Linked DNA regions of Homo sapiens: region 1 is linked to region 2. The links come from fine-mapping of genetic effects on gene expression. A gene starts in region 2. The other region holds a variant in brackets. All regions are shown on one strand. Distances are from middle to middle. Region 1 has its middle 2.4 kb from the start of FUT2. Region 2 holds the start of NTN5 (netrin 5).

Evidence for each region. PIP is the estimated chance that this variant, and not a neighbour inherited with it, causes the effect.
Region 1: its variant is the best candidate, but not a certain one, in a credible set for the expression of NTN5 in whole blood (TOPMed, PIP 0.89).

What each region holds. Positions count from the first base shown.
Region 1 is chr19:48,691,365-48,695,745 of GRCh38, forward strand. No RefSeq gene overlaps it. Among named protein-coding and RNA genes, the nearest start is that of FUT2, 2.4 kb to the right of the region's middle. RefSeq lists an enhancer at 3,878-4,381. The variant G/A (reference allele first, on the strand shown) is at 2,101.
Region 2 is chr19:48,671,160-48,675,529 of GRCh38, forward strand. NTN5 (netrin 5) reads right to left here and starts at 1,858. Exons shown (of 7, transcript NM_145807.4): 1 at 1,773-1,858. It overlaps LOC105372431 (a long non-coding RNA gene), which reads right to left. Exons shown (of 3, transcript XR_936016.3): 2 at 4,082-4,370; 3 at 1,987-2,628. It also overlaps the pseudogene SEC1P. RefSeq lists enhancers at 3,415-4,063, 4,064-4,370 and a silencer at 4,337-4,370.

The sequences.
Region 1 (4,381 bases), 20 kb after region 2:
TCGCCCAGGCTGGAGTGCAGTGGCGTGATCTCAGCTCACTGAAAGCTCTGCCTCCCGGGTTCACGCCATTCTCCTGCCTCAGCCTCCCGAGTAGCTGGGACTACAGGTGCCCGCCACCATGCCCAGCTAATTTAAAAAAATTTTTTTTAAATTTTTAGTAGAGATGGGGGTTTCACCATGTTAGCCACGACGGTCTCGATCTCTTGACCTCATGATCCGCCCACCTCAGCCTCCCAAAGTGCTGGGTGGGATTATAGGCGTGAGCCACCGTGCCCGGCCTTTTTTTCGTTTTGTTTTTTGAGATGGAGTCTCACCCTGTCACCCAGGCTGGAGTGCAATGGCACGATATTGGCTCAGTGCAACCTCTGCCTCCCAGGTTCAAGCAATTCTGCTTCAGCCTCCCGAGTAGCTGGGATTACAGGCACAGCCACCATGCCCGGCTAATTTTTTGTATCTAGTAGAGACAGGATTTCACCAGGGTTGGCCAGGCTGTTCTCAAACTCCTGACCTCATGATCAGCCCGCCACCCTCTCAAAGTGCTGGGATTACAGGTGTGAGCCACTGCACCTAATCTAATCTTTTATAACTGTCAATCTAATCTTATAACTGTATGTTAGCCTTTGTATGCAAAATGCTGTCATTCTGCTCACGATCTCCATTTTTTGTTGTTGTTGTTGTTGGTTTTTTGTTTGTTTTGTTTGTTTGTTTGTTTTAGACAGAGTCTTGCTCTTTTGCCCAGGCTGGAGTGCAGTGGTGCGATCTCGGAACACTGAAACCTCCACCCCACCCCGCCTCTGCCTCCCAGGTTCAAGCAATTCTTCTGCCTCAGCCTCCCAGGTAGCTGAGATTACAGGTGCTCACCACCACACAGCCAGCTAATTTTTGTATTTTTTTTTTTTTAGTAGAGACAGGGCTTCACTATGTTGACCAGGCTGGTCTCAAACTCGTGACCTCAAACGATCTACCTGCCTTGGCCTCCCAAAGTGCTGGGATTACAGGCATTAGCCACTGCGTTTGACCTCTCCATTTTTACCTGTATAAATGAGTTCCACTTTTCCCCATACTGGAAGCACTGATCACCATTCTTCGGTGTCCTTGTGTCCCTGGACAGCCACCCTCACACACTTGTGTTTAAAAAAACTTTTCTTATTTTTTTCTTGAGATGGAGTCTCGTTCTGTCACCCAGGCTGGAGTGCAGTGGCGTGATCTCAGCTCACTGCAACCTCCACCTCCCAGGTTCAAGCAATTCTCATGCCTCAGCTTCCCGAGTAGCTGGGACTACAGGTGTGCACCACCACACCCAGGTAATTTTTGTATTTTTAGTAGAGACTGGGTTACAGCATGTTAGCCAGGCTGGTCTCGAACTCCCGGTCTCAAGCAATCTGCCTGCCTCAGCTTCCCAAAGTGCTGAGATTACAGGCGTGAACAACTGTGCCCAGATTTATTTTTTAATTTTTCAGAGGCAGGGTCTTTCTCTGTCACTCAGGCTGGAGTGCAGCGTCAGGATCATAGCTGACGCTGGACCTCCTGGGCTCCTCTTGCCTCAGCCTCTCAAGTAGCTGGGACTACAGACATGTGCCACCATGTCTGGCTAATTTTCTTTATTTTTTGTAGAGAGACAAGGTCTTGCTATGTTGCCCAGGCTGGTCTTTAACTTCTGGCTTCAAGCTATGCTCCTGCCTCAGCCTCCTGAGTAGCTGAGATTACAGGTGCATGCCTCCATGCCTGGCCACCACGGCCAATTTCAAGCTACCAATATGAGATCATTGAACATGCAATTGGAAAGAAATGCACAGTATTACATTGTTCTATAGCAAGCCTATTACACAGACATAATAAATGTAAATAGGCCAGGCAAGATGGTTCATACCTGTAATCCCAGCACTTTGGGAGGCTGAGGCAGGAGGATCGCTTTGAGCTCAGGAGTTCGAGGCCAGCCTGGGTAACATAGTGAGACCCCATCTCTACAAAAAAACACAAAATTAACTGAGTGTGGTGACGGGCACCTGTAGTCCCAGCTACTCAGGAGGCCAAGGCAGGAGACTCATTTGAGCCCAGGAGGCGGAGGTTGCAGTGAGCACATACATTGATTGGCACACA[G/A]ATTGGCAGATACTAACATACAGTGTGTTTTTTTCTCCAGAGAACTGGCTGGTAAGTGTTTACCATAGTAAGAAGACTTACTATAGAACAATGTATTACTGTGCGTTTCTTTCCAATTCCATGTTCAATGATCTCTTATTGGTAGCTTGAAATTGGCCGTGGTGGCCAAGCATGGGGGCGTGCACCAGTAAGGGAAAGCTGAAATGGAAAACAGAGGGTTTAGGGCAACAGTCCTGAATTCCGGAGTGCTGTCCCCCTGGGGGAGTTATGGGAATCTGTGGGGGTTGTTTTTAGTTGTCACAGTGGAGGTCCTAGGATGCTACCACAGCGTTTACGCGGCTGGGGTCAGCGACAATAAAAGTTACGCAATGAAGGTTTGTCCTGCATTCTCAGGACTTTGTTTTATTTTTGAGACAGAGTCTTGCTCTGTCACCCAGGCTGGAGTGCAGTGGTACCATCTCGGCTCACTGCAACCTCTGCCTCCCAGGTTCAAGGAATTCTCCTCCCCTAGCCTCCTGAGTAGCTGGGATTACAGGCGTGCACCACCATGCCCAGCTAATTTTGTATTTTTAGTAGAGATGGAGTTTCACTAAAAAAAAATGTTGGCTAGGCTGGTCTCAAACTCCTGACCTCAGGTGATCCTCCTGCCTCGGCCTCCCAAAGTGCTGGGATTGCAGGCATGAGCCACTGCGCCCAGGTCATTCCCATGACTTTGGAACATCTGTGGGACATTCATGGAGTTGGAAAGTCTAAGCCTCTGAGCCCCAAATCTGTTTTGCGTTTTTTTTTTTTTTTTTTTTTTGAGAGGGAGTCTTGCTCTGTCGCCCAGGCTGGAGTGCAGTGGTGTGACCTCGGCTCACTGCAAGCTCCGCCCCCGGGGTTCACGCCATTCTCCTGCCTCAGCCTCCCAAGTAGCTGGGACTACAGGCACCCACCACCACGCCCGGCTAATTTTTTTTTTATATATATTTTTAGTAGAGACGGGGTTTCACTGTATTAGCCAGGATGGTCTCAATCTCCTGACCTCGTGATCCGCCCGACTCAGCCTCCCAAAGTGCTGGGATTACAGGCGTGAGCCACCACACCTGGCCTGTTTTGCATATTTTATGACAGCTCACCTCCCCACTTCCCCGCCCCACCCTGTTTCTTTTTTCCTTGTCGCTGAATCACAGGGAAACAGGTCGTTTGTCCTGTGGACGGGCTCACATTCTGGACTGGGCTGATTGCTGCCTCATGGTGTCGTTTCACTGGGAACTTTGTCCTCCTGTTTTCTGCAAACTGGTGGTTAGAGTGGGAAGCTTGATCTGATTTTTTTGTTTGTTTGTTTGAAGGGAGCTCCGTAGCTGGTAGGTAGCCTCCTGCTGCTTAGCTGAAGCTGGGGAGTGGCTGCTGGTTTCTCTTTCCTCCTGTTAGGACTGCTGGGAGCTCTGGTGGTGCCTGCCTCTTCTCTCAGTAAAATTCCTCATCCATCTTTTTTTTTTTTGAGACAGAGTTTTGCTCTTGTTTCCCAGGCTGGAGTGCAATGGTGTAATCTCAGTTTACTGCAACCTCCGCCTCCCAAGTTCAAGCGATTCTCCTGCCTCAGCCTCCCAAGTAGCTGGGATTACAGGTGCATGCCACCACGCCCCACTGATTTTTGCATTTTTAGTAGAGACAGGGTTTCACCATGTTGGCCAGACTGGTCTCAAACTCCTGACCTCAGGTGATCCACCTGCCTCGGCCTCCCAAAGTGCTGGGATTACAGGCATGAGCCACTGTGCTGGGCCATGGCTAATTTCTGTATTCTTATAAGGACGGGGTTTCACCTTGTTGGCCAGGCTGGTCTCTGACTCCTGACCTCAGTTGATCCGCCTGCCTCGGCCTCCCAAAGTGCTAGAATTACAGGTGTGAGTCACCACACCGGGCCCATTTGTATTTAAAAATTTTTTTGAAATAGGCAGGGCGAGGTGGCTCACGTCTGTAATCCCAGCACTTTGGGAAGCTGAGGCAGGAGAATCCCTTGAACTTGTGAGGCGGCGGTTGCAGTGAGCTGAGATCACGCCATTGCACTCCAGCCTGGGCAACAAGAGCAAAACTCTCTCAAAAAGTAATACTACTAATAATTAATTAATAAATAAATATAAGACTCTGAGGGGACTCAGAGTCAGCGAGAGCCTGGCCTAGCAGGACTCTGTCCCCCGCCTCCATGCTGCCTTCCTGGAGGCCTTCCTGGCTGCCTGGAGGAGCGGAGCAGAGTGGGGGCCCCTTTCTGTTGGGGCATCACAACAGTTCCCCAAGGAAG
Region 2 (4,370 bases):
AATTACTGTTTACATAACCCAAAGGGGAAAGAACGCAGACAAAATCGAGAATTTTGCCTGAACTAATCCGTAGCTTAACACCCCAGAGTTATCCGTCAGTGTCGAGGGGCAGGGGGCCCTGGGGAGCGGTGAGCGGCTGGAGCAGAGGGGCTGGCCAAGGCCAGCAGACGTGGAAACCTAGAGAGGGACACAGAGACAAGCAGGGCTGGGCAGGAGAGGGGGCTTAGGGACAGATGAAGACTCAGTCACAAAGAAATAGAGGACAGGACAGAGGCAGAGAGAGGACAGTCAGCCTAGGGGAGGCGCTCGGCACAGAGAAGTTGCTGCAAAGACAGAGGAACAGACAGGAGGCTGAGAGGCTGAGACAGAGGCCAGGCACCCAGAGGCCACAGGGAGCTGGGAGACTGAGGCTCGGACTGCCTGGGGGCTGGGATAGGTGGGCAGGTGGGCTCAGAGACACCCAGCCTGGCAGGCCCTGGGGAGGGGAGGGAAGGGGACAGGCTAGGGGTGTCTGGCGGGGGATCAGAAGTGAGAGACCGAGGCCCAGGCCTGCAGGGATCAGAGCCATTGCCTTTCCCACATGGGGCCCTAACCTTGTTCTCCACACCCTGGGCACGGAAGGGGATTATCACCAAACAACCCAGCCTCCCTGCCACCCGCCCACCCACCCCCAGCGCCCCACCCTTAACCCTTTCCCACCCGAGTGCAAAGCCCAGAGAGCTGAGCTGAGGAAAGGGATGCTGGGAGCTGGAACCTGGGTGGCTCTGGGGCTTGGGAGCGGGACAGTGGGATCCCCATGGGGTCAGGGGAAGCAGACACCTGGGTTCCCTTCAGAACTCAGGGTGTGGGGACCGGAAGTTAGCGTTCTGGGACTTTCTGCTCACCTCAACCCTGCCCTCTATTCTGGGCCTCAGGGCCTGGAGACCAGAGTCCCCACATTCTCCACCCATCCAGAGTTCCCCAGAGCAGATGGGGGAACAGATGTTGGGGGCGGTGGGTAATGAGGAGGAGAGAGGCAGGAAGGCAGGAGCTGGGACAGGGTGGGGTGCCAGATGCCAGGGCGCCCGTGGGGGCAGAAGCCCAGACCCTAGGAATGGCAGGAGCTGGGAAGGACTGGACTCTGAAATGCCCCCACTTTCCCCTTCCAGGGCCAGCAGCCTCTGGTGAGGAGCTCACTGTGGACTGGGGGCCTCGGAGCCTTTCCAGGCCCTTGGCTCTGAATCTGCGCCCAGGAATGTCCCTGGGCTGGGCATCTCTGGGGCACCCTGGCGGTTGAGGTGGGCCACACCTGCCCCAGCCTGGCCTCACTGCCCATGTCCCCACTGCTGTTGGCCACATGCAGACGCTGCCTCCCCTGGCCCAGATGACAGGCCTCGCCCTCCGCCCTCCCAAGGAGCCTGGCGCCATTTTGCACCCACTCAGGTGGCAGCCGCCTGCCTGGCCCTCAGCAGCATCCTGTTAAGGGCCAGTCCCCCATGTCCCCTTTCTCTCTGGATAGTTGCTGGATAGTTCAGGGGGTGGCACCCTCTGGCCCTTAGCACCTTGAGGAACCAGGCTGTGAGTTCCCTAGTGTTCCTGGGGGATCCAGAAACCAGTCGTGGCCCACAGAGAGCCCATACCCCTCTTTAAGAAAGAGTCCAGCCATGCTCCCAGCAGACTCATAGGAGGCCTGCCTGGGCGGCCTGGGGTCCATCTGGGACCCAGGCTTCCTTTCCCTGGCTCTTGGCATGCACCCCCCAACCCGAGCCCTGAGGCCCCGACATTGGCCAAACCTGCACTCAAGAAGAGAGCGTCCTGCAGCCAGTTCCCCGCAGGCTCTTCCTCCAAGCTGTGGCGCGGTGGGCTCTCAGGAGGGAGTGGCGTGGCTGTTCTCAGGCCCCAGGCTAGTGGGGTTTCTGGGCTGGGCGGGGGCTCAGAGCAGAGCCCGCAGAATCTAACACCGCCACCCCCCTCCCACCCCAATCCCTCACCAACCGCAGCCACGCTATCCCCACAGGGACCCCTGCCAGCCAGGCCACCCGCAACGGTGTGGGACGTGAGTGCCGTTGCCCCCGGCGGTCCAGCAGCAGGACAGCCCCGAGCAGCCTGGCCTAGGAGGCTCACCGCAGGTAGGACGGGAGGCTGTCAGTCGGGGGTCCCGCTCCATCCCACTCCACCCCTGCCCACTGGCTCAGCCCCGCCTTGTGGTGGCCGCCATCGCGATCGGGCAGGGGCTGACCTTTGGGAGACAATCGCTGTTGGAAACTTTGCTCAGCCCCTGCCTCTGGCTGCGTGACCCCAAGCCAGCCCCTCCTCCTCCTCTCTGGAACCTTTTGTCAGCTGTGGGTTCACCGAGCCTTAAGGTCAGTAAAATCTGTGCTCTTGGAAGGTTCAGACCAGCCCCTGGAATTCAAAAGACCTCAGTCGCTTTCTAAGATGGTGGGGAAGGCGACAAATGAGCTGAGAACACCTGGGCCCCAGTGTTTCTCATGCGGCAGAGGGAGAAGGCGGGGACCCCCGGGGTGCGGGGGACCAAGCTCAAAAGCACCTCCCCAGTGCCGCTGGTGTCCTGCGAGTCCTCAGTGCTTTCATCGTGACATTTTCATGCGAATGTTGCTGTCTGTTCTATTCCATCTCCGAATGGGTTGACTAGAAAAATAATGTTTTCTGTCACTTCCCGCTGAGAAAAGCAAGGGCCTCATGGAGTTGGGGCGCGGCACCTGCTGCCCTGGGTGGCCCCAGCGTTTATCGTGGTGTAGCGTGGGCCCAATCCTGACAGGCTTGGGACCCACTGCCCCAGGCCCGCCCCCAGGGGGTGCGAGGGCACAGCAAAGGCGACCCTCGACTCTGGACCCTTAGGTACCACGTTGGAGGGGGCCAGATTTGGCAGGAGCAGGACAGGGACATCGGATTTGAAAGAAGGGAGTCACTCCGAAAGCTGGGAGGTGCATCAGCTGCAGGAGGATGGAATGGGGCTGAGACGCCCCCCATCAGAGGGGGCATGTCAGAGCTGGGGGCCCAGGCTGTGTGAGTCAGAGTGGAACTTCGGGATTCAGGCGCAGGTCCCTCCGCTGACCCTGCCTGAGCTCCCCCTGTATGGGACTTTGCCGGGGGTTCGCGCTGGGAACACAGACCCCTGCCCCATCAGGCTCAGTGTCCAGAGAGGGAGGGGGAGACCCCAGCAGCGCAGGTCCTTCTGTGCTCTAGGTTGTTGGAAGGTGCCAAGTGCCTTGGAGCAAAGCAAGTGGGGGGGGCGGCCACGGGGGCCCGGGGATTGCAGATGTAAGTGGGGTGATGCGGAGGGGCATTTGTGCTGAGCCCACCGCCAGCACAGAACCCAGCTTTGCTGCCACACAAAACTGAGGAAGAAGGCTTAGGTCTCGCTGCGTCTTCCTCCCCACCTGGGCGAAGTCTCAAGCTCCGGCTCCTGGAGGGAAGCTTTTGTTCCTTGCAGCTTGAGCTGCCTGAGTTGATGGGCGCCCCTGCGGGTGCCCGGGGGCAGGCGGGGAAGAACAGACGGAGCTGCCACAGCCGAGCACATAGTGCCCCAAGCTGGGAAGGAGACTGTTTTTTTTGTTGGGGAGAGTTCTTTAAGGGCTGGAGACCTTCACCCTCACAGCTTCTACAGAAGGCCAGGCCTGCCCAAGGCACATCTCTGAGGTGGGTTCAACCCAGAGAGAACCTCAGTGCTGGGCTCACACAGACCTCTAACCCCTGCCTTGGTGGCCCAGATATAACGGAGTCTCCACGAGGCAGGGCAGGTCACCCGCAGGAGTTACTGGGCATTGTGTGGCTGGGTAGGGCCTGCCCTCCCGGACATGTTCAAAAAGGCCAGGATGGTAACCCCAGCCATACTGCCTGGGTTCAAATCCACCTCTGTCCTAGCTGTGTGACCGAGAACAAGCTTCTTAACCTCTCTGTGCCTTCATTTCCTCATCTGTTAAATGAGGAAGAAAGAATGGACCTTCCTCATGGTGGGCGGAGGGGGTCATGAGGACTGAATGAGCTGACATGCCCACGGGTTCTTATCTGAGCTCTCTGGGAAAGTCGTGTTCCGGAACCTTCTGCTTCCTGGCCCTGTTGTCGGATGCATAGTACGTACGTGACATGGCATCCATGGTAGGTCTGGGCCGCATCACATTGTCAAACATGTTATGTTTTAGGCAGCAGAGCACATGGGTGTTCACAGTAAGAGAAGTAAAGTCTGCAAATAGCCACATGACCCTCCTCCAAGCCAGGGTTGTCCCCAGATGAGTTCAGTCCAGGTTGGCGTTTGCCGCTCCCCCTGAGGAAAATGGCTGACAAGGAATCGCGGACCAGGACAGCCAGCCCCGTGATGGGCCTGCCCGCCAGCACCCTCGCAGCCTCGGCCTTGGCTGGTGCTTTTCTGC